4 linked regions of the Homo sapiens genome follow. The protein of the gene in region 3 interacts with the protein of the main gene of each other region in a biochemical or structural test. Each region holds a gene or a part of one and is shown on either strand. Other genes may lie near its edges.

The links.
Region 1: the proteins of CFTR (region 3) and NHERF1 form a complex in vitro, tested with the Homo sapiens proteins (9 studies listed by BioGRID and IntAct, with this or other methods).
Region 2: the proteins of CFTR (region 3) and NHERF2 form a complex in vitro, tested with the Homo sapiens proteins (4 studies listed by BioGRID and IntAct, with this or other methods).
Region 4: the proteins of CFTR (region 3) and CASK interact in a test that uses a peptide from one of them, tested with the Homo sapiens proteins (2 studies listed by IntAct, with this or other methods).

What each region holds. Positions count from the first base shown.
Region 1 is NC_000017.11:74,744,274-74,751,636, forward strand, and holds the start of NHERF1 (Na(+)/H(+) exchange regulatory cofactor NHE-RF1), read left to right. Parts: upstream 1-4,354; 5' UTR 4,355-4,573; coding exon 4,574-5,014; exon of another isoform or gene 5,015-5,594; intron 5,595-7,363. Other genes in the region: RAB37 (ras-related protein Rab-37), read left to right, coding at 35-100, 600-656, 735-811, 1,033-1,138. UniProt on the Homo sapiens protein: Scaffold protein that connects plasma membrane proteins with members of the ezrin/moesin/radixin family and thereby helps to link them to the actin cytoskeleton and to regulate their surface expression. Necessary for recycling of internalized ADRB2.
Region 2 is NC_000016.10:2,029,880-2,036,902, forward strand, and holds part of NHERF2 (Na(+)/H(+) exchange regulatory cofactor NHE-RF2), read left to right. Parts: intron 1-3,414; exon of another isoform or gene 3,415-3,472; coding exon of another isoform or gene 3,473-3,553; intron 3,554-3,709; exon of another isoform or gene 3,710-5,805; coding exon of another isoform or gene 5,806-5,814; intron 5,815-6,444; coding exon 6,445-6,624; intron 6,625-6,848; coding exon 6,849-7,002; intron 7,003-7,023.
Region 3 is NC_000007.14:117,588,023-117,595,045, forward strand, and holds part of CFTR (cystic fibrosis transmembrane conductance regulator), read left to right. Parts: intron 1-2,330; coding exon 2,331-2,417; intron 2,418-3,911; coding exon 3,912-4,635; intron 4,636-6,907; coding exon 6,908-7,023. UniProt on the Homo sapiens protein: Epithelial ion channel that plays an important role in the regulation of epithelial ion and water transport and fluid homeostasis. Mediates the transport of chloride ions across the cell membrane.
Region 4 is NC_000023.11:41,514,536-41,521,558, reverse strand, and holds the end of CASK (peripheral plasma membrane protein CASK), read left to right. Parts: intron 1-962; coding exon 963-1,139; 3' UTR 1,140-6,625; downstream 6,626-7,023. UniProt on the Homo sapiens protein: Multidomain scaffolding Mg(2+)-independent protein kinase that catalyzes the phosphotransfer from ATP to proteins such as NRXN1, and plays a role in synaptic transmembrane protein anchoring and ion channel trafficking.

The sequences.
Region 1 (7,363 bases), on a different chromosome or scaffold from region 3:
AGAGAATGCCAGTCTCGCACGCCCTCTCCCACAGGCCTGGCTCACTGAGATTCATGAGTATGCCCAGAGGGACGTGGTGATCATGCTGCTAGGCAACAAGGTGAGTGGCTCCGGGGCAGGGTCAGCCCAGCCCTGCACTTCCTCAGCCCTAGCCGGCCCCATAACCACCCAAGAACAGTTATCTAGGCATCCTTCCTGAAAAGGACTCTGCAGCCTCCAGCTCAGGGGTCAGACATATCTGGAGGCTTCTGCCCATCCCATCTGCCCCTTCCAGGGAAAGTCCAAGTTGTTGCCTGAGAAATCAAGGGGTGCCCAGTTCTCAGCCCCCATTAGAGCAGAGTGAACAGGGTCCCAGGTCAGGGGCTAAGAGTGCAAAGGGTTAGCCCCAACTGCTGTCCTATTCCAAGACCCTTTACCAAAGGTGAGATCCCAGAGCTGGGAGCTACACTGGGCAGAAACCCTGGCCCCAGGCCAATCACACCTGCCTGCAGTCCCTTGGGCCACCAGCAGAGGGCAGGCAACGCCTGCTTCTGGGGCAAAATATGGGCCCGCTGGGGCGGAGGCCTCCTTCCCCAGAGTGACCCATTTGGGCTTGACAGGCGGATATGAGCAGCGAAAGAGTGATCCGTTCCGAAGACGGAGAGACCTTGGCCAGGGTAAGTGATTGTCTGTGGGACAGGGTGAAGGGTGGGGGCAACCCGACGCTGGCCCTGAGGACACTCTCTCCCGGGCAGGAGTACGGTGTTCCCTTCCTGGAGACCAGCGCCAAGACTGGCATGAATGTGGAGTTAGCCTTTCTGGCCATCGCCAAGTGAGAGCTGGGCAGGGAAGGGAAGTGTGCGGGGCAGGGCGGCACACTCCAGGAATCCAGTAGGGCCCGGCCCCTGGCCCAGCCCCTGGACACACCTGCATTCTGCAGGCTGAGGTCCATTTGCTCTGGGAGCACTGGGCCACTGGGAGAGGGGAGGGGGCGGCTCAGCTCCTCACCCCAGCCCAGCCCAGCCCAGCCCAGCCCATTGTCTCTTCTTCAAGGGAACTGAAATACCGGGCCGGGCATCAGGCGGATGAGCCCAGCTTCCAGATCCGAGACTATGTAGAGTCCCAGAAGAAGCGCTCCAGCTGCTGCTCCTTCATGTGAATCCCAGGGGGCAGAGAGGAGGCTCTGGAGGCACACAGGATGCAGCCTTCCCCCTCCCAGGCCTGGCTTATTCCAAGAGGCTGAGCCAATGGGGAGAAAGATGGAGGACTCACTGCACAGCCGCTTCCTAGCAGGGAGCTATACTCCAACTCCTACTTGAGTTCCTGCGGTCTCCCCGCATCCACAGGGAGGGTAAAACACTTAGCTTTTATTTTAATAGTACATAATTTAATACCAAAAAAGGCGCCTGGATCCCCAAAAAACCGAGGCTGGGAGCTAGTGGCCCTTTTGCTTTCTAGGACTTGGGGGGCCGGCCCTCCCTCCTAAGCATAACAAAGGTGGTGTTGCTCCAGCTCAGCCCCAGGGGACACAGATGCACTTTGGGGGTGAGGGCAGGTAATGACTCCATCGCACCCTCAGTTCAGCTGGACAGAGGCTCAGGTGACCCCAGCCTTCACTGTCTCCCGCTCTCCAGGAGCTTATCTTCGCCCCATCTCCCAAATAAGTGGGCCCTTGTGCTGTGAGGAAGACCAAAGCCTCAGGGAAGATAAGAGATATGGAGATGGGAGGGGGAGGACAAGGGGCAGAGAGTAGGGTCTAGCTGGCTATCTCTGGCCTTACTAACACCCCCCTGGAGGCATGCCCCTTTTCTCCAGCACACAAGCACATTGGGGCACCTGGAAATATTGGTTCCAGGCTCCTGTTCTCTGGACTTCAGATCCTGGGGGAGCCCCTCCCCCCCCTGAATCCCTGGCTTAGCTACCTTCCTGCCTGTGCACCTAAAAACCTCAGGTCAGAACTAGGAAAAGAGTTTTGTTTTTATTTTTTTGAAATGGAGTCTCGTTCTGTCGCCCAGGCTGAGGTGCAGTAGTGCAATCTCCGCTCACTACAACCTCCACTCCCTGGGGCTCAAGCGATCCTCCCACCTCAGCCGCCGAAGTAGCTGGGACTATAGGTGTGTACCATCACACCTGGCTAATTTTTGTATTTTTTGTAGACACAGGGTTTCGCCATGTTGCCCAGGCTGGTCTTGAATTCCTGAGCTCAAGCAACCTGCCGGCCTCGGCCTCCCAAAGTACTGGGATTACACGCAGAAGGCACCATGCCCAGGCTAGATGTGTCTTATCCCAATCCTTTGGCAGGCATGCAGCTCCACAGGCGATTTCTTCAAGCAGCTGAAGTGTTTAGCCCTCCTGGGTTAAGAGCCAGATAAGGAGAAATCCCTTTCCTAGGTTTGGAATGTGTTGTGAAAAAAAAGAGAAATCCCTGGCTCCTGGAGCTGGTGGGAGACAAGATTAAGCAAACCTCCCCTGACATGTATCCCTTTGACCCCAAGCTCTGCCTCCTCCCTGACCACCCATGCCCTTTCCTTTAACTTCTCAAACAGATACCAGGGCCTAAACTGCTTTACCTCCCCTCCTACTGAGTCAGGTTAGGTGGTGGGAGGTCACCCATTTCCGAGTTAAACCAATGCAATATGAGTAAAACAAAGTCATGTGGGTATGTCTGGGGTAGAGAGAGGGGTAGCAAGTTCATGTGTCCTCCTTGGTCACATATCTCCCAAAGCTCCGATCCCTGCCATGGGAAGTGGACAGGAAACATGAGGTCATGACCTGCAGGCATCTTTACTGCAGCTCTGCCGGCCTGGAGGGGGAGAGGGGGAGGAAGAAGTATGCGCTGCACATTTCTGAGGCTACTGCATTTGCTTTCAAGGCAGAAATCTTGCTCTGAGCAGTCAGCGGCTCCAGTTTGGGCCCGATAAGGAAGTTCTCCGTGGCCTCCCTCAGGCAGAGCAGGGAGGAGGCTGACATTGCCAGTCTCTTCTGGGGCCCAAGGCAGGTTGCAGGAGATCCAATCCCATAGACAGCTCTGGGCCTCTTGCATTTGAGTTTTTCAGAATTAAACTGCAGTATTTTGGAAAGCACATCCTGTCCACTGTTTCTTTGAAGTGAGTGGGGGGGGGGGGTCTTGTTGAAGGAATTGTCATTCACTGCCAAAATCATTCCATCCTCCTTCCTCAGTGTCTGTCCTCAGATGGTCAGCTCCCCGCTCAACAGACTGTCTCCCGCCTCTGTGACCAGCCTCTCTTTGGCAAGAGGGAGCTAGAAGGCTTTACAGTCCTAATCATTTTTCTGTTGGAAAAAAAAAAAAAAAACCAAGGCTCCTTTCCCTGTGGCGTGTACCCAGAGGTTGATTACCTGAGTCTGTCCTGCCTCTCCCCACCCCACCTCCCTAGCCAAACGCTGCTGCCAAAGCCCACGCTATTGCCCTAGATGGCCTGTCTTCAGCGGGCTGCCCCTCGAGGTCCCAGGCTCTCCGCGGAGCCCTCACCTTCCCAGCAGGGATCAGAACCTGCACTCCTCTATGCGAGTCCTGGGACAGCACAAAGTGGATTAGGGTTAGGGTTCCCACAAACGGAAAAATGTTATTCAAACAACTCTGTAGGGTCCGAGGAGGCCCTCCGTCTTAATTCTCGAGACTGACCGGCCCTCGCTGCCCCGAGCGGGAGCAGTTGCCCCGGCAACAGCCGCTCCCTCTCAACTGGAGCTGCACCCAGGCTTTGGCTAAAGGCTGTTAAAACGTTGGCCAGGTGCGGTGGCTCACGTCTGTAATCCCAGGGCGGATCACCTGAGGTCAGGAGTTTGAAACCATCCTGGCCAACATGGCGAAATTTCGTCTCTACTAAAAATACAAAAATTAGCGGGGCGTGGTGGTGCGCGCCTGTAACCCCAGCTGCTCGGGAGGCTGAGGCAGGGGAATCGCTTGAACCCGGGAGGCGGAGGTTGCAGTGATCCGAGATCGCGCCACGGCAGTCCAGCCTGGGCGACAGAGCGAGACTCCGTCTCAAAAAAAAAAAAAAAAGTTAGGGTCCTTTACCCGAGGGCCGGCTTTCCTCACTCCCCGCCACAGGTAGGGGAAACCAGGCCGGAGCCGGCGGGCCCACCCGCCCAGAACCGGGAATTCGGCGAGCCCCGCCCCTGCCACCCCAGCGCCGGCCGCTCGGTAACAAACACTTCCACTTCCTGAGCGCTAGTCTTCGCCCGCCGCGGGGCGCCGCGCCGAGCGCAGGCCCCGCCCCGCGCGTTCCCAATGGCCGGCGCCGTTCACCCGGCCGGAGCGCCCAGGCCTGCAGCCCCCTATTGGCCCGCGGAGGTCCCCACCCTCAGCGCGGCCCCGCCCCCGGGGTAAGGAGCCGGGGCGGACTCTGGGACGCTCAGACGCCGCGCGGGGCGGGGATTGGTCTGTGGTCCTCTCTCGGCTCCTCGCGGCTCGCGGCGGCCGACGGTTCCTGGGACACCTGCTTGCTTGGCCCGTCCGGCGGCTCAGGGCTTCTCTGCTGCGCTCCCGGTTCGCTGGACGGGAAGAAGGGCTGGGCCGTCCCGTCCCGTCCCCATCGGAACCCCAAGTCGCGCCGCTGACCCGTCGCAGGGCGAGATGAGCGCGGACGCAGCGGCCGGGGCGCCCCTGCCCCGGCTCTGCTGCCTGGAGAAGGGTCCGAACGGCTACGGCTTCCACCTGCACGGGGAGAAGGGCAAGTTGGGCCAGTACATCCGGCTGGTGGAGCCCGGCTCGCCGGCCGAGAAGGCGGGGCTGCTGGCGGGGGACCGGCTGGTGGAGGTGAACGGCGAAAACGTGGAGAAGGAGACCCACCAGCAGGTGGTGAGCCGCATCCGCGCCGCACTCAACGCCGTGCGCCTGCTGGTGGTCGACCCCGAGACGGACGAGCAGCTGCAGAAGCTCGGCGTCCAGGTCCGAGAGGAGCTGCTGCGCGCCCAGGAAGCGCCGGGGCAGGCCGAGCCGCCGGCCGCCGCCGAGGTGCAGGGGGCTGGCAACGAAAATGAGCCTCGCGAGGCCGACAAGAGCCACCCGGAGCAGGTAAGCGGGGCCCAAGCCGCGCAGGCTGGCATGGAGTGGGAGGAGGATCCGGAGAGACCCAGGTGCCCCGGCCGTCCAGCCCCGCGCCCGCCGTCGTTTTTCTGAAACTCGAGCTGCGAGGGGGAGACCGCTTCCGCCCGCCGACCAGGCGCCCTGACACATCCTAGGCAGGCCTGGGGCTGCGTCCCGCGACCTCCTCTCCTTCCCAGGCTGTGCTGGGAGCTTGAGCGCCTTTGCCGCCTGCACCTCTTGTTCCCTGGCCTTTGGGAGGGCGGCGCAGGGGAACCCAGCCCCCTTCCCTCGGGTCTGTGGGTGTCTGCTCCCGTTCCTCGGAATCCCCCAATCCTGCTCCTTCCCTGGTGCCCTCTCCTCGTTCACCCCAGTCCGCAGATGGGCCGGGGAGAAAGGGCTCTCCGCCCCAGAGGTGCCAGCTTCGCCCGCCACTCCTACTTCAAAAGCTAGAGGAATAGCATTACTCCTCCTGTGTGGAGCCCCGGCGCGAGGAGGCCCTCTCCGCAGCCCGCCGGTGTGTGTCCTGAACTTCAGTCCTGCTGGACTTCATCCTCCCGGAGTCCTGTGTGACTTCTAAGGGAGAGGAAGCCCCACCATCTCAGGGCGGTGTGGGGGTTGCCTGGCAGGGAGGAGGAGCCAAGGCATCTCGGAGTGGTGGTTCTGCCACCTCAGAGGATTTACGATTCTCAGGAATGTGAAGAGTAAGCGCCTAGAACTGTATCTGGGAGGGAAGGGGAAAGACCTTGGAAGAAGAAAAAGATGGCCATGGGGAGGAGAGAGAGCTCCTGGGGCTCACGGCCCTGTGTGCGCCAGCGGAGCTCACGGTGAGCCGGTGGTCTTGCCCTGGCCTTGCCATGGTCACTCTGGTGCCCACACAGCCAGCAGGCCGGTTGCTTTTTGCCCATGTTTGGTGTTTGCCCATGGGATCCCAGTTTGGATCAGCTGCAAGAGGGGCAGCTGGCAAAATAGGAGTTGTGCTGAGCCTCCTGTCCCCAGAGAGTGGAGTGGTGCATTGTGTAGGGCAGGGCGTGAGCCTCCCAGGACCCCTTCAGCTTGCACCACCAGCTCTCCCTGGTGGCAGTGTCTGATGGGAGTGTCCGTGGGGCTACGAGGAGCCTCCTGGACAGAGAAAGGGCACAGTTCGGCATTAAGGTAGAAGGCAAAGCCCTAGAGGATCAACTGGTTTGGTGGAAGTGAGGTCACCAGAAGCCCTGTCCAGCCAGAGCTGGGTGCTGGGAATGCCAGGGCCACCAGGCTCCCACTTCCTGCCCCTGCCAAGCTGGCATTGGCAAGGGGAGGGGGAAGGGATCTGAGCACCCGGAGCAAGGAGGTTGATGCCAGGGAGTTGGGGCCGATGATCTCCAGTCCCAGGCAGAAATCCAGTGTGAACTTTGTGCTGAGTCCATCGATCGATTTGACATTCTTTTTTTTTTTTTTTTTTGGACTTTGGCACCCACACAAATACCCACCCACCCCCACCCCCCACAAGTTGCAGTCTCGTTCAGCTCCTCCCTTTGCCCTTTTGGTTATGCTGCTGGGTGCCAGAGGGCCTGGGAGGCGAACGTGGAGGCCTGGCATAGCACACGTGCGCAAAGGCAGCAGCTTTGAGCTTCCTGGGTGAGCACAGACTCAGATTCCTGCATGTTTTGGAGGGACACCTACATTTGTGTGTACTTTGTTAGGCCAGGAGATGAGAGGAGAGCCACCAGCAAATCCTGGGGACACCATCACCAGCCAAGTCCCAGGACTTCTGAGTTCTGGTTCTCCCATCTGTGAGATGGAGGCATTGGGCGATGTGATGCCTGCCTTCTCTAGAATTATAGAAATGACGTGAAGCACTTGAGCCCCTTACTAAATGCTGAACTGCACTCCTTCATGCCTGGCGTTTGAATCCCAGCTCCTCTAAACTGACTCCTAGTCAACACCATTGAGTCCTTCTAGCAGAAAATCCTCTCCTCTCAATCCTGTGTGTTGAGCATACAGACACCCATGTGGTTATTAGAAAAAATGTTAACAGACATTGTAAGAGTTCGTTTTTCTAAAACACACCCGTTTCCTACATAAAGCATCAAATGGAGGTTTGCCAATTCGTTTTAGTCTGAATTTGTGTGCAAGGTGGGGCTGTTCCCTTGTCTTCATTAGCCCTCCACTTACTAAGTGATGATATCAGTGGAAAAGTGTGGCGCAGAGAGTGGTTGGCTGGGTGGCCTCTGGCTGGGAAGACCAGCTGTGTCCAGAACCACTCAGGGCAGAGGCTGAGGGGTGCCTGTAACACTGGCCATCCCCGCTGGGGAGTCTAGGCCTAAGGAGGTGGAAGTGGCTCTCCAGCTCTGCCCA
Region 2 (7,023 bases), on a different chromosome or scaffold from region 3:
TTGGTCTCTTCTGCCTTTTGGGGCTCCTTTTCTGCCCCAGGGACCATCTTGTTGGCCACTGGGGGCCACTGTTTCTACCCTCAGCCTGTGTTTTAAACTGGGTAGGGTCAGGGCAGCCTGGCCTGTTCCTCTTCTCCAGGATGCTCCAGAGCCACTTGCCCTATCGAGGGGTCACTCTGACAAGCTGCCGCCTCCCCAGCCCCCAGCCTCGTGGCTGAGGAACCCTGGGAAGAGGCATTCCAGGTCTGCGTGTGCGCAGCTCTGTGCCTGTGCTGGGTGTCATCCGTGGCTCTGTCTTTGTCTCTGTTGAAGGCGCCTGCATGCTGGGAAGGCCTGGGAGAGGGCCGGCCTTCTCCACAGGCAGCGCCGTGGTTGGGGAAGCCTAGGAGGCCACTCTGCCAGGCCTGGCGTAGGTGGGGCTGGGAGCATGGGAGTGGAGTTGGGGGTCCAGGAGGCTCCAGGGTGAGCCCACTCCTCCCCCTAGATACAAGGGAGGGCCCTGGGACCCTGTCTGCTGTTCCTCCTGGACTCCTGCTGGGTAGTACTTCCTCCTTCCCCTGCCCTTGCTCCCAGCCAGGAGACCCAGAAAAGTACAGGGGCGGCCTGCTCCACCTCCTGCTAGGTGGCCGACTGGGAGGGGCGGCCTGGCAGGCCTTGGGGACCAGGAGGAACAGCCTGAAGCTGTCTGTCTTATCTTCCTGGAGGCCCTGATGGCATTATCTCCATGTTCTCTCCTACCTTTTTTTTTTTTTTTTTTTCATTTTCAAAGAGAACCCTGGCCGGGTGCGGTGGCTCACGCCTGTAATCCCAACACTTCGGGAGGCTGAGATGGGTGGATCACCTGAGGTCAGGAATTTTGAGACCAGCTTGACTAATGTGGTGAAACCCCCGTCTCTACTAAAAATACAAAAATCAGTTGGGCATGGTGGGGCACGCCTATAGTCCCAGCTACTTGGGAGGCTGAGGCAGGAGAGTCGCTTGAACCCGGCAGGCGGAGGTTTCAGTGAGCCGAGATCCCGCCATAGCACTCCAGCCTAGGCGACAGAGTGAGACTGTCTCAAAAAAAAACAAAAAAAGGAAAAGAAAGAAATCCCTTCAGGGGATATGAGTCCAGGGGTTGGCCAGACCCCACTGTGAGAACCGCGCTTGGGGCAGGGGTGTGGGATCTGGAGTTCTGAGGGTGCAGGGGATATACACATTCACTTTCTCCCTTTCCCAGACGTCACTGCTGAAGCTGGCTGCCCCTAGGAGCTGAGCCCGGGGGGAGCGGCTTGGCAGGGAGACAGCATTCCCTGTGGGGAGCCCAGCCTGGGCGCAGGCCTGCCCGTGGGACCTGTGGGACCCGTTTTGTTCCTGGGGCTTGAGGGCGGGCCACAGTGGTGCTCAGGGCCAAGGTGCCCAGCCCAGGGCTGGTGGGGGGGCTGGCCTTGCAGGGGGGCTGGCTGGTCCTAAGCCCCTGTCTCCAGGCTGAGGGTTGGGGCCTCCCTCTTTCCCAGCCACCTTCCCTCCCCCAGGAGGAAGCTCCCCCTCTGCCTCAGGCGTTTGTCCATTGATTTGGACACAAACGCATGGTTCACCTTCCTGTGGAAAAATCCGGCCCTCGGACTTTATCTGGAGGGTGCAGTGGCCCAGGCACCTTGCCTTGGGTGGGACCTTCCCCCTCTGCTATTTCAGGCTCTGGGGGCTGCAGGAAGCCCTAGGAGGGGCTTCCTCTGGGTGTATTTTTAGAGGAACAAAGGGTGGCCTGAGTGGCAGGTCCCTTTGTGCATGAGTCTGGCTGGGGACAGGGGCTCCAGGAGGTCAGGGGGCACCCAAGGAACAGGGTCTCCCCTTCTCTCTTCTGGCATCAAGACCTGAGGTTTCTTTTTCTTTTTCTTTCTTGGCTCACTACAACCTCCGCTGTCTGGGTTCAAGCGATTCTCTTGCCTCACCCTCCCCAGTAGCTGGGATTACAGGCGCGCACCACCACACCTGACTAATTTTTGTGTTTTTAGTAGAGACGGGGTTTCACCATGTTGCTCAAGCTGGTCTCGAACTCCTGATCTCAGGTGATCTGCCCTCCTCGACCTCCCAAAGTTCTGGGATTACAGGTGTGAGCCACTGTACCCGGCCCCTGAGGTCTGAGGTTTCATTTCTTTCTTTCTTTTTTTTTTTTTTTGAGACGGAGTTTCACTCTGTCGCCCAGGCTGGAGTGCTGTGGTGCGATCTCGGCTCACTGCAAGCTCCGCCTCCTGGGTTCAAGCAATTCTTATGTCTCAGCCTGCTGAGTAGCTGGGATTACAGGCGTGTACCACCACACCTGGCTAATTTTTGTGTTTTTGGTAGAGACAGGGTTTCACCGTGTTGGCCAGGCTGGTCTCAAACTCTTGGGCTCAAGTGATCCGCCTGCCTCAGCCTCCCAAAGTGCTGGGATTACAGGTGTGAGCCCCTGCGCCTGGCTCAGGACCTGAGGTTTCTTCACCTGAGCTCCCAGCATGGGCAGGAAGAGGTGGGCCTCACCTGACCTCCACAGAGCAGGCTCAGATCCTGCCCTTCTCAGCCTGGGTTCAGGGCATGCCTCAGATGGTCAGGGAGCCCAGGAGGGCAAAGCTTACCTTGCGGGGATGGCTCCAGTGGGGGCACTGGTGGCAGAGAGGCAGAGCTCTGGAAGGGATGTGTGTAGTTTGTCTTTGGTGAAGGATGGAGAGGGCCCAACTTTGGGTGCCCCCTGGGAGCTAAGGGTGGCTCTCAGTGTCCTCTGTCCTGGCTGGGGATAGGGGAGGTGGGCAGGGGAGGACACTGATGTGGTTGGCCCCTCCTTTTGGGGGCCGTGAAGGCCTAGTTAGTGATGACTCAGCCCTGGGCCACACCAGGCTGGGGGTGGCCGCAGCTGCAGTGCAGCTGATCCTAGTAGTGACGACAGGGGACAGCCCCCAAACAGAGACGGGGTGGCCAGCGGTGCCAGGCCCTGGAGGTGGTGGCAGACCCTGAGCCCTCTGCCCCCTGCCCCTAGCCCATGTCTCCACCCCCATCTGGAGGGCCTTGGGGGCTAAGAGCAGGTGTGAGGGGTGACAGTTCTGCGGGAGGCGGCTGTGTGGTTGGGGCGCGGTGCCTGCGGGGGCTTCCGGGCTTCCCTGGCTCTTGCTCCTCTGGAGCCTCAACAGGACCGTCCTGTGTTCTGGGGCCGGGACTCCTCCCTGTCCCCTCAGCCCTGGGTCCTGGGGCAGGGCAGGGCCTTCCAGCAGCTTCCTTCCTTCCTTTCTTGGGACGGAAGCCTAGCTGGGTGGGGGGCGCCAGGCTGGAGCCTTCGCAGGGGAGCGGGCTCAGTCATCACCCTGCTCCCCAGAGTGACTCAGCCCCCACGTCCCCACCCATCCCCGGGGAGCCAGGGCCGCAGAGGGAGGTAGATAAGTGGGGTGGCAGCCTGGGTCGGCCAGAGAGTTCAGGCCACCCCGGCCGGACGCCTGCCACTTGCTGTCACTGTGCCGCTGTCATGGCACGCTCCGGGAGTGCCACGCCACCTGCCCGGGCTCCGGGAGCCCCTCCACGGAGCCCACCCCAGAGGCTGGTACAGGTCAGGTGGGGTGGGAGGAAGGGAGGGCTAGGAGGAACCGGCAGCCGCTCAGCCTCCCGGGGTGGAAGGAGGGGACTCCGGGACCTTGATGTAAGCAGGCTGGTCGCTGAGCAACAATGAAGGCCTTTCTCTGCCAGGGCTGGTGCGTCACCATCTGGGGGGGTGCCCAGGGTACCCCCATGCCAGCCTCTTTGTCCGGACACAGGCATGGCTGGGGGACCAGGGATGGTCCAGCTCTGTGCTGGCCGCCGGCAGGGAGGGAGCCTGGAGCCCGTGGGAGCCCGAGGGCCTGGCGGGAGGCGGCAGGAAGTGTGTGCTGAGCCAGGGCAGGGAGGAGGAATGTGAGCTATGAACGCCGCCCGAGCTCCTCGGCTCTCTGGGCCCCCCTTCCCCACGAGCCCATGTGCTGCCAGCAGCCCACCCTGGCCCCTCCATTGCAGCCCCTCCACCTGAGGTTTTAGTGCTGTGCCTGGCGCCACTGGGACCCTGCTGACAATGAAGGGGTTTAGGTTTGATAGGCAGAACTTCTTGCCTTGTAGAGTGAAAGACGGCTGCTTCTGGACAGAGGCAGAGGGGTGGCCAGAATGACCCTGAGAACACTGAGGGGTCCTTGGCCTGGCCTCAGGGCCCCAGACACCCACCAGATCCTGCTTCCTGTCTGGTGCCCTGAGAAACCCTGCCCCGCAGGCCGCTGTGCAGGCGTGGGAAGGGCTGCCGGGCCAGCACTGTGGGGCTGGCCGCATGTGTGGGCTGCTGTGCGTGTTTGCAGGTGTGTGTGGACGTCTTGTGTCTGTGGCTGTGTGATGTGTCTTTGCGGACTGGGCCCATATCACGCTCCCACCTCCTCCACTGAATTGGGCTCCTGTCCCCACGCCTTCCCTGCGTCCCAGGCCAGCCTGGGGGCCGTGCTCCACCTCCCCTCCCGAACTGGACTCCTGTCCCCACGCCTTCCCTCCGTCCCAGGCCAGCCTGGGGGCCGTGCTCCACCTCCCCTCCCGAACTGGACTCCTGTCCCCACGCCTTCCCTCCGTCCCAGGCCAGCCTGGGGGCCGTGCTCCACCTCCCCTCCCGAACTGGACTCCTGTCCCCACGCCTTCCCTCCGTCCCAGGCCAGCCTGGGGGCCGTGCTCCACCTCCCCTCCCGAACTGGGCTCCTGTCCCCACGCCTTCCCTCCGTCCCAGGCCAGCCTGGGGGCCGTGCTCCACCTCCCCTCCCGAACTGGACTCCTGTCCCCACGCCTTCCCTCCGTCCCAGGCCAGCCTGGGGGCCGTGCTCCACCTCCCCTCCCGAACTGGGCTCCTGTCCCCACGCCTTCCCTCCGTCCCAGGCCAGCCTGGGGGCTGTGCTCCACTTCCCCTCCCGAACTGGACTCCTGTCCCCACGCCTTCCCTGCGTCCCAGGCCAGCCTGGGGGCCGTGCTGTGACTGCATCCCTGAGGGGCACTTTGGTGGGCAGGTGTCAGGGTCAGCCTTGAAGCCCCACGCCTGTGCCACCAGGTGTGTCTGGGGGAGGAGTGAGTCTATGTGGTGGGGCCCTGGAGATTTTGGGGGTCTTGCACCCTCTAATTCAGCCCATGTGGCCCAGCTGAGCCCCTGTGGGGCCAGGGAGCCACAGGCTTGTCCCTGGAGTTTCTGGTGTGACGGGCTGGGTGGTGGCCATGCAGAGAGGGTTCAGAGGGTGGGCAGGAGGCTTCAGATGAGGCATCTGGCAGGCTGGACAGGAGAAGGGTGTTCCAGACCAAGGGCAGGTCCTGAGCCCAGGGGACAGAGCACTAGCTGTGTGGAGAAGGACCCCCTTGCTCCCTTGGCGGGGCGGTCCCCCCCGCTGACATGGCCGTTTCTGGTCCATTGGGGTTTGGAGCGAGCTTGAAGGTGGGTGGCTGGAGGGGTTGGGGGTGTCTGAGGCCTGGAGACCTGCCCTCCTGAGGTCTGAGCGCCCCCTTGCCATGCCGCCCCAGCCCTGGCCTGGCCTGGCCTGTGGTCCCTCAGGGACACACAGGGAGGTAGGAGGTGAGGGAAGGGCCCTGGCAGCCCCCAGCCCGCCTGCACAGTCTCCCCTGCGCACGCCCTCAAGCTTGGCGCTCCCTGGAAACCTGAGCTGCCTCCTGCCTGCTCCGGCCACCGCCATGTTTAACTGAGCACGGGCAGCCGCTGGCCACCGCCGCCGCACCCTGGCCCACCCCCTGGCTGGGAGGTGGTCATTGGGCCTGGCCTTGCCTGCATGGTCCCCTGGCCCAGAGCCCTACCGCAGGATGCCAGAGGTAACATGGGGCAGGGCCTGGGATGGTAGCGGGGGGTCCTTCCGGGCACCAGGAGGCCCTCTGTGCCCTGTCCACACTAAGCTCCTGCCCCAGCCCCTGCTTGCTGGGCCCACGGGGGTGGGGCGGCTCATTTTCCTGGAATGTGAAAGCAAACAGAGCCGCCACCGCAGCCAGCCCCACGGAGGCCTCTGGAGAGAAAACAAAACTGCTGGCCTAGGAGCGCCTGCCCCACGCTCTGGAGGAGAGCCCGGGGCAGGGGGACGCACAGGCAGAGCCCTCAGGGACAACCGCCCCAGGAGGCCAACGGCGACAGTTCATCCCACCTGGTGCTTCCTCCCACCCTGCCTGTGCGCCACGCTGGCCTCGAGCCAAAGGAATTCTCCCAGCAACCCGGGAAGGCGGCTGGGCCCGTCGGGGAGGCTTCTGGGTTTGAAAACAGGCTTTGCCCAAGTTCCCACAGCTAAAGCTCTGTCACAGGCAGCCTGGGTGCCCGGAGTGTTTGCCACTGAGACCTGGGCCTGCCCGTGGGGGGCACGGTACCGAGTTTGGGCAGTGGCGGCACCACCGGGGAGTGGCCTCTGGAGGCGGGAGGCTGGAGCAAGAGACTGACCCTGTCCGTTGGGCCTGCAGGATGTCAGTGGGCCCCTGAGGGAGCTGCGCCCTCGGCTCTGCCACCTGCGAAAGGGACCTCAGGGCTATGGGTTCAACCTGCATAGTGACAAGTCCCGGCCCGGCCAGTACATCCGCTCTGTGGACCCGGGCTCACCTGCCGCCCGCTCTGGCCTCCGCGCCCAGGACCGGCTCATTGAGGTACCGGCCCACCAGGGCTGCGGGGTGCCGAGTGCCCCGCACCTGTCCACACTGGGGCCCTGGGTCCTTGCAGGGAGGAGGGAGACGCTGGGAACCTGAGCTGGTGCGCCTCCTGCTGCCTCGGTGGGCGGTGGCTGTGATGAATATTTGATGCCACACCTGGCCACGCGGCGTTGGGGGCTGTCTGGGCCCATGGCGGGGCTGATACATGCTGGTGGCGGCAGGTGAACGGGCAGAATGTGGAGGGACTGCGCCATGCTGAGGTGGTGGCCAGCATCAAGGCACGGGAGGACGAGGCCCGGCTGCTGGTCGTGGACCCCGAGACAGATGAACACTTCAAGCGGCTTCGGGTCACACCCACCGAGGAGCACGTGGAAGGTGGGCCACGGCCCAGGGCAC
Region 3 (7,023 bases):
GATTATGGTTACTCAGAATCTGTGCCCGTATCTTGGTGTCAGTGTATTTGTTTGCCTCATAGTATAGTTTACTACAAATGGAAAACTCTAGGATTCTGCATAATACTGGACAGAGAAGATGTAAATATCTGTTAGTTCCATCATAGACCCTGCCACTCCAATGTACACACCAGCTTTAGGCTTCTTGGTATAGATAAACATACATTTTCAAAATTTTTCATCATAATTTTCATAACAAAATAGGAAGGCAAATGATGTCACTTGGCTTAAAATCTATAATATTTAAAATAAACAGGACAAATGCATTAACATTGTTGGGGGAGGAGGTCCCTTAGTAGAAACACTCTTGGTCCAAGCATTTTAAAGCTGTCAAAGAGATGTAAATATAGATAATGTATGTCAAGGAGAGAGCTTTGTGGTTAAACTGTAACTTTCAGTTTAAACAATTATTGGTGACTCTGATGTCAAATGTTTCTCAAGCTTTATCTGAACAAAATTCTTCTCACTTTGTTGCCAAAGTCGTTAACAAGAAATCACATTGACTCATTGATGTTTTGGCTCCTTTCCCTTACTTTCTGTTGCTTTCCAAAAGCTGAGACAGGAAACTAACCCTAACTGAGCACCTGCAATTGCCTGGTAGTATTCTAGTCATGTGTGTACTTTTGTGTGTATGTAATCCCCTTACAGCTCTGCAAAGTAAGAATTGTTCTCCCTGCTTTACAGAAGAGATCATAAGATAATTGAGGCTGTTAGATGTTAACTTGCCAAAAGCCATACAGGAAAATGGTAGAGTCACAGTTTGAACCAGGTCCTTTTGATTCTTTACATTAAACCATGCTTTGATCTTGGAAATACACTGTAAGGCAATAAATCAATAGATACGGATAATTCACAGGCTTCTAAATAAATGGAAGTTGATTGTTTTTATCTGTGAGCCAAAGTAAGACTTATTCTAAGAATTCCACAAATTTAGATAAGATAGAGTATATGGCTTCTAGACATCCAACATAGAACTGAGTTTGTGTTATCAGTTTAAGATTTGGTTTTGCTGTAAGGTGCACACACTTTGAGGAACTAAAAATAATTGTCTGTTCTTATTCTGATCAGAATGTGTAATGTGTTGTCCAGTTTTGGATGATGAATTTCTTATTTCTAATCTCATAAGAAACTTGTCATAGATGTGAGGGAGAGAATTAAGAACAGAGTGTGGGGAAGAAACTGTGTACATTTTGATGGGATCCATTATGTAGCTCTTGCATACTGTCTTCAAAAATAAGTTACACTATAAAGGTTGTTTTAGACTTTTAAAGTTTTGCCATTGGTTTTTAAAAAAATTTTTAAATTGGCTTTAAAAATTTCTTAATTGTGTGCTGAATACAATTTTCTTTATTACAGAAGTACCAACAATTACATGTATAAACAGAGAATCCTATGTACTTGAGATATAAGTAAGGTTACTATCAATCACACCTGAAAAATTTAAATGTTATGAAGAAATTATCTCATTTCTATTAATATGGGAACTGTGTCTTCATCTTTATTACTGTTCTAAGGTCAACTCAATGTAGATTTTACTTGCTTATGGTTTCATATTTTAGCTAAATAGTAAAATAATATGGATATACATTTTGTTGTGACTTACTCATACTTTCCTTATTTGGAACTTTTATGAATATGATATAGAGACTGAAACTACAAGGAACAAAATGCAATATCAATTATACAGTTGTGGCAGCACTGCTATCAATTTGTTGATAGTGGTTAACACTTAGAAAAACATTTTAAAAATAATTTCACATAAGTAATGTAATTTATTAGCTGTCTCTGACATTTTACAGTTTGGAATAGTTTATTTTCTTTTTGGTGTCCTCACCAAAACCCAACATCTTCAAGGGCAGGAACTGTATAATTTTTGCCATTGTATTTTGAGCACATAGCATGGTACTTGCCTCTAAATAGATACTATTGTTAAAATATTTTTTAAGGTAATATTTTAAAGTGTATGCTATGGTACAGTTCAGTTTGTGACTTTTGCTAGTTTATGCCACTTACAGTTAGCAAAATCACTTCAGCAGTTCTTGGAATGTTGTGAAAAGTGATAAAAATCTTCTGCAACTTATTCCTTTATTCCTCATTTAAAATAATCTACCATAGTAAAAACATGTATAAAAGTGCTACTTCTGCACCACTTTTGAGAATAGTGTTATTTCAGTGAATCGATGTGGTGACCATATTGTAATGCATGTAGTGAACTGTTTAAGGCAAATCATCTACACTAGATGACCAGGAAATAGAGAGGAAATGTAATTTAATTTCCATTTTCTTTTTAGAGCAGTATACAAAGATGCTGATTTGTATTTATTAGACTCTCCTTTTGGATACCTAGATGTTTTAACAGAAAAAGAAATATTTGAAAGGTATGTTCTTTGAATACCTTACTTATAATGCTCATGCTAAAATAAAAGAAAGACAGACTGTCCCATCATAGATTGCATTTTACCTCTTGAGAAATATGTTCACCATTGTTGGTATGGCAGAATGTAGCATGGTATTAACTCAAATCTGATCTGCCCTACTGGGCCAGGATTCAAGATTACTTCCATTAAAACCTTTTCTCACCGCCTCATGCTAAACCAGTTTCTCTCATTGCTATACTGTTATAGCAATTGCTATCTATGTAGTTTTTGCAGTATCATTGCCTTGTGATATATATTACTTTAATTATTATTATACTTAACATTTTTATTTACTTTTTGTGTTAGTATTTTATTCTGTCTTCTCCTTAGATAGTAACCTTCTTAAGAAAATATATATGCTAAGTGTTTTACTGGTTTAATATGCTTAGACTACTCATCTACCTCAATACTTCCTTGGAGATCTCCTCCTCAGTCACACAGAGCTCAGGACTTATATTTCCTTGGAACTCCTGTTAGGGTCCAATGTACATGAAATTCCCTAGACAGACAGACAGTCAGTTATATGGCTTGATTTCAAAGTTTCAAAATGATTTAATGGACTATCAAGTAGTTTATTAGGAGAACAGTTATTATACTCTTCTAAAAATAAAGACTTTAAGCAATAAAGATGTATATGTATATAAAATGGCTGGGTTATTCCTAGAAGTACCTTTCTTAGAATTTAGTTAAATTTAATATCCAAGATACTATCTTTTCAACCCTGAGATTGTGAAAAGTAACTTCTATCAATATAAACTTTACTACATTTGTATTGTGTTAGTGTGTTACAGTATAATCTAGAACAATGTGTCTTTCTATATGATATATGACATTTTAATGCCTAAAAAAACTGATATGTCTTAGATGATTCTAGTCAGGATTTACTTCTAGAATAGATTAAAATTCTATTTGAGGAGAGTCAAATTAATTATCGAATTCTCAGTTGTTATTATTGCTGTTTTATTTTTAGTGAAACAGATTAGTCTTAATGTAAACACTTGAGAAATAAATTGATGGTCAACCTAAAATGTAAAAAAGAAATTAATAGAAAATTTAAAGAGCAACAAAGCTCTGACATTTAAAAGAAATGAAGTACAAATCTCTAGGGACCTTAAAGATCATCTAATAATTTCCTCATTTTCTAGATAAATAAACTGAGAGACCCCGAGGATAAATGATTTGCTCAAAGTCAAATATCTACTTAATATAGGAAATTTAATTTCATTCTCAGTCTGTTAACATGCAACTTTTCAATATAGCATGTTATTTCATGCTATCAGAATTCACAAGGTACCAATTTAATTACTACAGAGTACTTATAGAATCATTTAAAATATAATAAAATTGTATGATAGAGATTATATGCAATAAAACATTAACAAAATGCTAAAATACGAGACATATTGCAATAAAGTATTTATAAAATTGATATTTATATGTTTTTATATCTTAAAGCTGTGTCTGTAAACTGATGGCTAACAAAACTAGGATTTTGGTCACTTCTAAAATGGAACATTTAAAGAAAGCTGACAAAATATTAATTTTGCATGAAGGTAGCAGCTATTTTTATGGGACATTTTCAGAACTCCAAAATCTACAGCCAGACTTTAGCTCAAAACTCATGGGATGTGATTCTTTCGACCAATTTAGTGCAGAAAGAAGAAATTCAATCCTAACTGAGACCTTACACCGTTTCTCATTAGAAGGAGATGCTCCTGTCTCCTGGACAGAAACAAAAAAACAATCTTTTAAACAGACTGGAGAGTTTGGGGAAAAAAGGAAGAATTCTATTCTCAATCCAATCAACTCTATACGAAAATTTTCCATTGTGCAAAAGACTCCCTTACAAATGAATGGCATCGAAGAGGATTCTGATGAGCCTTTAGAGAGAAGGCTGTCCTTAGTACCAGATTCTGAGCAGGGAGAGGCGATACTGCCTCGCATCAGCGTGATCAGCACTGGCCCCACGCTTCAGGCACGAAGGAGGCAGTCTGTCCTGAACCTGATGACACACTCAGTTAACCAAGGTCAGAACATTCACCGAAAGACAACAGCATCCACACGAAAAGTGTCACTGGCCCCTCAGGCAAACTTGACTGAACTGGATATATATTCAAGAAGGTTATCTCAAGAAACTGGCTTGGAAATAAGTGAAGAAATTAACGAAGAAGACTTAAAGGTAGGTATACATCGCTTGGGGGTATTTCACCCCACAGAATGCAATTGAGTAGAATGCAATATGTAGCATGTAACAAAATTTACTAAAATCATAGGATTAGGATAAGGTGTATCTTAAAACTCAGAAAGTATGAAGTTCATTAATTATACAAGCAACGTTAAAATGTAAAATAACAAATGATTTCTTTTTGCAATGGACATATCTCTTCCCATAAAATGGGAAAGGATTTAGTTTTTGGTCCTCTACTAAGCCAGTGATAACTGTGACTATAAGTTAGAAAGCATTTGCTTTATTACCATCTTGAACCCTCTGTGGGAAGAGGTGCAGTATAAATAACTGTATAAATAAATAGTAGCTTTCATTATTTATAGCTCGCAAAATAATCTGTATGGAAGTAGCATATATAAGGTATATAAACATTTAGCCTCTTGATAGGACTAACTCACATTCTGGTTTGTATATCAGTCTTGCCTGAATTTAGCTAGTGTGGGCTTTTTTTTATCTTGTGAGTTTGCTTTATACATTGGGTTTCTGAAAAGATTTCTTTTAGAGAATGTATATAAGCTTAACATGTACTAGTGCCAATCTTCAGACAGAAATTTTGTTCTATTAGGTTTTAAGAATAAAAGCATTTTATTTTTAAAACAGGAAATAATATAAAAAGGAGAGTTTTTGTTGTTTTAGTAGAAAACTTAATGCCTTGGATGAAATGAGCCATGGGCAGGGTTGTAATGAATTGATATGTTTAATAGTATAGATCATTTGTGAATAATATGACCTTTGACAAGACACAAGCCATTAACATCTGTAGGCAGAAGTTTCCTTCTTTGTAAAATGAGGGAATAAAATAGATCCCTAAAGTGTGTAATTTTAGTATTTCTAAACTTTATGAAGGTTTCCTAAATGATAATTCATCTATATAGTGTTTTTTTGTGTGTTTGTTTGTTTGTTTGTTTGAGATGGAGTCTCGCTCTGTCACCTAGGCTGGAGTGCAATGGTGCAACCTCGGCTCACTGCAACCTCTGCCTCCTGGGTTCAAGCTAATCTCCTGCCTCAGCCTCCTGAGTAGCTGAGATTACAGGCATGCACCACCATGCCGAGCTAATTTTTGTATTTTTAGTAGAGAAGGGGTTTCATCATGTTGACCAGGCTGGTCTTGAACTCCTGACCTTGTGATCCACCCACCTCAGCCTCCCAAAGTGCTGGTATTACAGGCGTGTGCCACCACGTCCAGCCTGAGCCACTGCGCCCAGCCCATCTATATAGTTTAATATCAATCTAAATGAATTTCTCAGTCCTGAGCCTAAAAATTTAGTTGTAAAGAATGATATCCTTGACTAATAATAGTTTCTATTAATGGATTGCATCTAGTGCTAGGTGGCATATATTTAGTCCCCACAACTACCCTGGAAGGTATTTAAAATTTTTCACATTTGCAGATAAGGAAACTAAAGTTCAGAGTTCGGCAACATGCTTGAATTCAAGCAGCTCCTAGGATGTTAATGGTGGAGGTTGGGTTCAAATCCAGATCTGTCTGACTCAAAAAATGCATACTCCTAACCAGTGCACTATATCCCAATTCCATAGGAGCCCTTCTTTGTGATTCATAGCACTTTCCCATGAGTTTTGTTGATTTTGTGAGAAACAAAACTCTTTTTCCTTTGGACTGTCTGGAATCTCTCTTTTTCAAATTTTTGAAATGTATTTCTATGCCAAAAGACAAAGATTTCTAGAGGAATATGCCTAGGATGAGAATTATGTAATTTAAATCACAGCTGGAAAGAGAGAAAGTCCTAAGTTACTAAGAAATGTTCAAACACAAATGAGCTTTCAGTCTATTGGAAGACCTTTATAGCTAGAAGTATACTGAACTGTACTTGTCCATGGACCCCTGAAGAAACAGGTTAAATCAAAGAGAGTTCTGGGAAACTTCATTTAGATGGTATCATTCATTTGATAAAAGGTATGCCACTGTTAAGCCTTTAATGGTAAAATTGTCCAATAATAATACAGTTATATAATCAGTGATACATTTTTAGAATTTTGAAAAATTACGATGTTTCTCATTTTTAATAAAGCTGTGTTGCTCCAGTAGACATTATTCTGGCTATAGAATGACATCATACATGGCATTTATAATGATTTATATTTGTTAAAATACACTTAGATTCAAGTAATACTATTCTTTTATTTTCATATATTAAAAATAAAACCACAATGGTGGCATGAAACTGTACTGTCTTATTGTAATAGCCATAATTCTTTTATTCAGGAGTGCTTTTTTGATGATATGGAGAGCATACCAGCAGTGACTACATGGAACACATACCTTCGATATATTACTGTCCACAAGAGCTTAATTTTTGTGCTAATTTGGTGCTTAGTAAT
Region 4 (7,023 bases), on a different chromosome or scaffold from region 3:
AGCAGAAGCTATACTTGCATGACAAAGCTGGGACCCTAAACTCCCTCCTCCTGTTGGATCCCTCTTACAAGAGTTCTTAAAATCTGTGGCAAGCTGCAGCTTAGGGAACATCCTTTGTTGCAGCAAACCTCCCTAGAGTTCAGTACTCCCTAGAGTTCTCTTCCTTCTGTTTTTTTCATAAGAGATATGAGGACCTACGAACAGTGACATTTGTCTAGCCACTTCTAATGCAGACCAATTTGGGGGGATTCATCAGATGCCAGGTGCTGTTTATTGGGGAAACAGCCTTATTCCAGCCATTATTTGTAACACTCAAAGATCTTTTGCCTCTGGCATCAGCTGCTATTGAGTGAGGGCCATTATATGTAATTGAATTCCTAGAACGTGTGGCACCTTTAAGTAGAAGAGGAAAAAATACAACTTAATTTGTCATCCAAGGGCAGGGACTTGTTGGTGCAAACACAGCTGGGCCCTGAGGCCTGGCTCCAGTGAGTGTGGAGGACCAAGGGGACGGGGGCAAAGAGCTCCAGCCTTGCCACCGTAGCCCTCTCGCCAATTGGGAGAGTGGCTTGAGGCTAGGGCGGGGGGCTTCCTGCTGGCCTGTTTGGGCCACCATAGCCACTGTAACCCACACCTGGCATGGCCCTACCAAGCCTGACTCTGGGGACAGGCACAGCTAGGCCTGAGTGGGGGTGGCATGTTTCCTGAAGAGTATCTGTTTTCTCTGGTTCGTCTGCTTTGTCATGGACCCTCTGTTGCATGTTGAGCAATCACTGTCTCCTCTGTCATGGAGCGGACTTGGCCTCATGCTGGCATATGGCATATCAGGGTCTGGCCTTGACTGTTTCTGACACTGGGATGAACAAAAATGTGAAAAGAGAACGAATCCAACTGATTTCTCTCTTCTGTTTGCTTTTCCCTCCTCTCATGCCCACCCCTACCTCCATCTCATCACCATTTAGGATGAATCTCTTCAGCGTCTGCAGAAGGAGTCTGACATCTTACAGAGAACATATGCACACTACTTCGATCTCACAATTATCAACAATGAAATTGATGAGACAATCAGACATCTGGAGGAAGCTGTTGAGCTCGTGTGCACAGCCCCACAGTGGGTCCCTGTCTCCTGGGTCTATTAGGCCTCTCCCCAGATATCTGAGCATAACTGGGAGCACCTCATTTGTGGAAAAGCCTCTTTGTTATCGGCCTTGTGTCAGCAGGTCATGGTCCCTAGAGACTACCTAGTTGTAGTGTGACCTACATTTATAATTATTGTCATGTCCGAATAGATAGGAGGAGAAAAACAATTACACACTAATTTAAAGAGACAGTATCTTTTTTAATCAGTTCTCCTAAACTTTAATAAAATGTATCTTTAAATGTATGTATTATTCAATCCTTTGGAATGTTATATTTTTGGAAATCATAGCTTTTTATTTCCAAGGCCCCTAAAAACTGCACAAAATAGATGCTGCTTTCTATAATCTATTTTAATAATAATAAACAATGATTCTGTTACCTTGACTGGGGGTGGAACACTACATTCTTTTTAGAGTCTGATTTTATGGATTGGAATATTGGGATATCTTTCTTTCCTTTATTTATTTGAAATAATTAGTGTAGTGATTACAAAACAGTCATAAATTTTTAAAGGCCTTTTTTCTCTCTTTTTTTTTTTTTAGAATAGTATTTTTTTTTAAGTCCTTTATGTAACATCCAGATAATGTGATACTGTCTCTTTGAAGCACCCTGTAAACCTTTTAGAGATTTGAAGTTGGGTCTTGACTCTTAATGCATGTGGACAGTCGCGAGCGTTTATGCTGTCGGTGTGTCTGTGTTGGACAAAACAATCTGTAATCTACAGCAAAGTACATTCTACATTCCGTTCATGGGGCACACCCAGGGGAATAAGAATAAAATGCTATTATGACTAAGTTGTAAACCTATGCACATCCCTTGCATTTTGGGCAACTTTATAAAAAAAAAGAAACTGATTTTTATTAATAATAATCATGTAGTGAAATGTGTTTGTAATTTTGTCTCAATTTAATTTGTTGTAAGGTGGGGTGGGGGGAATTGCTGGTTTCACCATTTCAGATCTGTGTTGTCTAAGAGTATTAACGTTTTAATTAAGCAAAGAAATGATTTTTAATCTGTATGTAATTGTTTTAAAGCACCCATTTTAAGAGAAAATACTGTGCAATGAAGAAACCAGTTTAGGCATTTGCTATAAACTGAAATATTCCAAAAGAATCATCTATAACAGCCCTGTAAATTCCTTTAAAATGATAACTAACAGGACAGTTTGACCAATTTTTTTTAAATATACTTCCTTTTATGTGTTCAATAATTAAATGCCTTTGGGTCCTTCATTTCATTATAGATTTGTTCAGGCTTCCAAGCTGATAATCTTTACAATTGTATAATTTGTTAGATGCTCATTGAACCTTTGAAGGCCCAGGAGTGAGTATCAGTTGGCAGGGTGACAAAGTAGCCTGCCAGAGCACAGCTGGACCACGTCTGACTCGCACAGAGCCATGCGCCCAAGGGCCACGGGTGTACTGGAGGCCACCTGTGGTCTCTCCTTCCTCTTGCTGTATCCCTTGGCACAGGGGAATCATCTGTCCTTGTTGCTTTAGAGACATTAACCATCTCATAACTCTTCCATGAAGTCACATTCTTCCAATACAGGAGATTCGGGCTGGGGTTCTCAGACTCTTTGCCAGAGGTCAGTAGAATGTTTTTCATTAGCATGTGAGGGTGTGAAGTGCTTATATTAACCTGTGATCCTTGAAAACATACCATCATTTTTTGCTTCTTGTAGGTTAGATGGCCTTGTCACTTTGTGCCTTGGCAGGATGTGCAGGGTGTGTTCTGAGCTGAACAGCTCCTCTTAAAGGACCAAACAGAGAAGGCATTAGTATACTTCTTTTACATTGTCAACACCATACCCGCCTCCGCCCCCCACCGCCTATTATTAAATGGTGGCGATTTTTTTTTTTCTGATGTTGTTCTTTGCCAGTGACCAGATGAGTCTGCAACTTACTAACAAGGTATTGAGTGAACTACTTCTGTATGGGCCCCACAGTGGGGTGACCAAGCCACCAAACCAGAGATAAGCTCAACAGTGGTCTCACACTAGATAGAGAGAGAAACCTTCAAAGAGTTGGGTAGGGCTGTGTTAGAACTGATTCGAATCTGATAGATGCCAAGGCCAGACAGTCGTTCCTGGTATGGTACTGACCACAATTTCGGGCTCTTAGTGTGAAGGTGCGCACTCTACCTCTTTTCTGGTGAAGCACAAAGACAACTACAACTAACACATGGGAAACAGAAACTTCCCTCCCTCTAGTGGAAACCCCCACGCCCCCACTTGCCCTTTGAGCCCACATCTCCAGAGATGCTGATGATGCCTGTCTTAAGCCATCTGCCATATTTATAAAGGTGGATTAAGCAGAGGAGGAGAAAAGCAATGCCAACTTAAATGTCTGTGGCCCCACAATTCACAAGCACTGTAGCACTCATCCTCAGTGGCTTTATACGTCCTCTGAGAAGCACACAGGCAGGCATCATTCTTGCCATCATTCCGATGGTGAAATCCCTGCATGCAGAACTCATTGACTTCTCAAAGATGTTACCTGTTCCATTCCACTAATACATGTCTTCTCTAAAGCAGTGTCTTTATGACCTAGCTGCATATACTTACATTTCTGAATTCAGAGTAATTTCAGTACATTGCTGCTGCTGCTGCTGCTGCTGCTGCTGCTGCTGCTGCTGCTGCTGCTGCTACTGCTACATTACAATTGTCCACTAAGCAATCAGAGAAAATTGCTAAAAGCTTCTTTACTGCTTCCATTCCATCAGCAGAACCTTTTTTTTTCTTTCTTTCTTTTAAAGACCAGAATGAATGTTTAGAGTACTAAATCTTATTAGTGGTCAATTGAAGTATTGGAGAGCCACATTTTGAAGGTTCTCTCCCCCACCCAACTCCATTCCCCACAGCAAGAAAGGGAGTGTTTTTATATGTTGAATTCTTTGTTAAAAAGATGAAATGTCCTGATTTTCCAGTCACAAGACAGTAATTACTTTGCACATACAGCATATCCCATTTTAATGCTAAAAAGGGAAATGTCACTCAATTTAATTCATCTGGAAGTTTCCCAGTGTCAAGATAACATTGTAGCCTTTTTAAATGCAATTAAATGTATCTCTTGTCAGGTGAGATGATTTAAAATCTTTGCTCAGAGAGGAAAACAAATGGTTGACCTACTTCTTGCTATTTGCATTCAGAAGGCATCGTCCCAGCCCATCCTATTGGTGGCAGAATATCTAAAGATGTCGCAAAGTCCCCCACTGCAGTAGAAATGCAGGAGGTGTTCCTGTTCCCCGTCCAATTCCTTCTTAGGCTGCTAGAGACAGCCAGTGGGCCAAGCCTTCCCCTGTGCTCCAGGCAGGCCTGGGCTGCAGCTACTGTTACCTTTTTACAGCCTTTGATCTGATCGCTGCAGAGTTCTTTTGTTTTTAAATCACTTGTATTTGTCTCTTCATTAAGGCTTCAAGTTTATTTCTTGAAAAAGTTTAGTCAATTGAACCACCCTCCAGGAAGATTCCCAGCGTGGAAACTGCCCCTGAAAAACAAGGCAGCCCAAAGCCAGCTCTCTTTTGTCCCCCACTGATGTCATGTCCTTTTTTTTTTTCATTTCAGGCCAGTTTCTTAACTTGGGGCAAAGAGAATGTGTTGCTAAAGCTACCAAGAAAACTGCTTGATTAACAAATTCTTAATAGAAATGCCTCCCACACTGTCTCTTTGAAAAGAGAAGGCACCTTGGAATCGGCATTCCAAAACCAAGCTCCTTGTCATCCTCATCCCTCCTCCTTCTTGCTTCCTATTATCAAACTCGTGTGTGTTTCTTGTTTTCTCAGAACTGAACACAGCCTCCTAATTCCATCCTCTTGACTAGGGCTTACAATACTGAGAGCGATTACAGGCTGTAATAAGTTAAAGGTCCCTGAGCGTGGCTTTCTTGTTCTGCGCCTCTAATTAATTCTTCTATTAAAAGATGCTTTCCTTCTCACTGCAGCTTACAGAAAGGCTACAAGCTTTAATCACAGATCATTTCATTTGCCAGAGCCTTTCCTTTTCTAACTCCTTTAGAAATAAGATTTCCCTCTCTGTTTGGAATCTCTGGATACAGGACTCTCCTCCAAGCTCATGGCTTGATTGGCTTTGCCTGTGCACACACACATCAGTTTGCCTTAAACTTGGAGCTATGGGGAGTCCCAGATTTTCCAGCTTAGTGGGTGAAGTTTAGCTGTCACCTACATCCAGGAAGTGGGGGAAAAGGGAAAAAAAGAGGATATTCACCACCATGTTCCCATCCGGTCTTTCCCCTGCCTTGCTTTGTGCAGCAGGTGGGCAGACAGAGCCCACAGAAACAGAAGTAGAAAGAGGGCCGCACCATCTCTGGGGCCAGCACTCCTAAGTCTTAGCTCTTTGTGGGAATAGAAAATCCTGAGCTCCCACCACCTCTCGTCTGACCCTCCATCAACTCCCTCGAACCTGTGCAAATGGACTGAGCAAAAGAAAATGGAAAGAGATGTTTGTCACCACACAGGAGACCTCCTTTCTGGCCCCAAGCACAACTCCATCTCTGCGTATGCTCAGAAACTCAGAATTTAGCTGCTACTTATGTGTTAGCTCCATTCTCTCTGGTGTGTGACTGAGAGAACACGCCAGTGTTCTTACTGACAGAGGCTTAGGGGTGACCCTCTCTGGACCCAGAGGAAGTACAACCTCTGTAGCGAGAATTGTCCTTGGGAACAGAAACAGGCATTCCTCCACAGTGAGTGGCTCCCCCTATTTTTTTTTTATTTGGAAGAGACCAAGAATTGGGGGAATTGATTTCCAGTCTTAGCTGTTTCCCGGAATGTCATCTGTGCAGGCAGGTAGGCGGCTGCCGGGTGCAGCAGGCAGCGTGACTGATGTGAAGGCCGCCCAATCCTCACGTGCTAAGACCCGAGTATCGTGTTTAATTGCAGTGTAGGCACGTCGCCATTCAAACTCAGTTCTGGGGTGGTTTTGCATAAAGTTTTGCCAACGTGTTCTTTTTTCTGTATGTATTATTGCCTTTTTATAAAAGGTGTTGAAGTATTGTCTCAGTGATAAAAAGAGAGAGATGTTAATGGTTGTTGTATATTTCACCGTATCCAATTGTAAGTATTTGCAGGGTACAGCAGAGCCTTAGCTTGCAAGAGCGTTTGTGCAGGAGGTGTCCCTCAACACCCAGGAGCTGAAGGGATTGGAAAGGTTTGGATTCTTTGTAAATGTCCTGCTTTTCTTTCTCTCTGTGTGTATCTATTTACATGCCTTAGCACACGCCCTCCCATCCTGATCCCTTTGCCCTGTCGCCGGAACAACCAGAATGCTGGTGCGCTGCCGGCACAGTACAAGTTGATGAAACCCTAATCAGTTATCTTGTGTGACAGGGGAAGAAGAGAAACTCCATAGTATTCCTTGTAGAATATACATACCTGTAGGATGCTGTGTAATGGGAAACCATAGAATTGGGCTTTTGTCATTTCAAAGTTGGAGAAATGTATGAATAAAATGTATAAAACATGAAAAGGCAGTTGTCTCCTCAGATTGCAGGCCAAACAGCTTGGGGACAAACAACAGAGGGTTAAAAGAAGAGGGATGGCCTGATTTCTAAAGGCCTCTGCAGAGTTCATCCACACAGTTAGGCCTCAGACACCTTCCCACAATGGTTGGGGTGGGGTGGGGGTGTTGCAGAGGGACAGCTCCTGGCCCTGTAAAGGAGCACGACCCAGGCTCCTGGTGCCCATCCTGCAGGTTTCAGTCTTCAGCCATGGCTGTTAACAGACGGCATCCTGCAAGCAGTTCCAGCTCAGTTGCTTGCATTTGGATGCAGGCTTAAAATAGCTTCATCTTAAAAAAAAAAGAAAAAAGAAAAAGTCTAAGTTGTGACATCTCCTAGAAATAGAAGTCTAAATTGATTTCGGTGG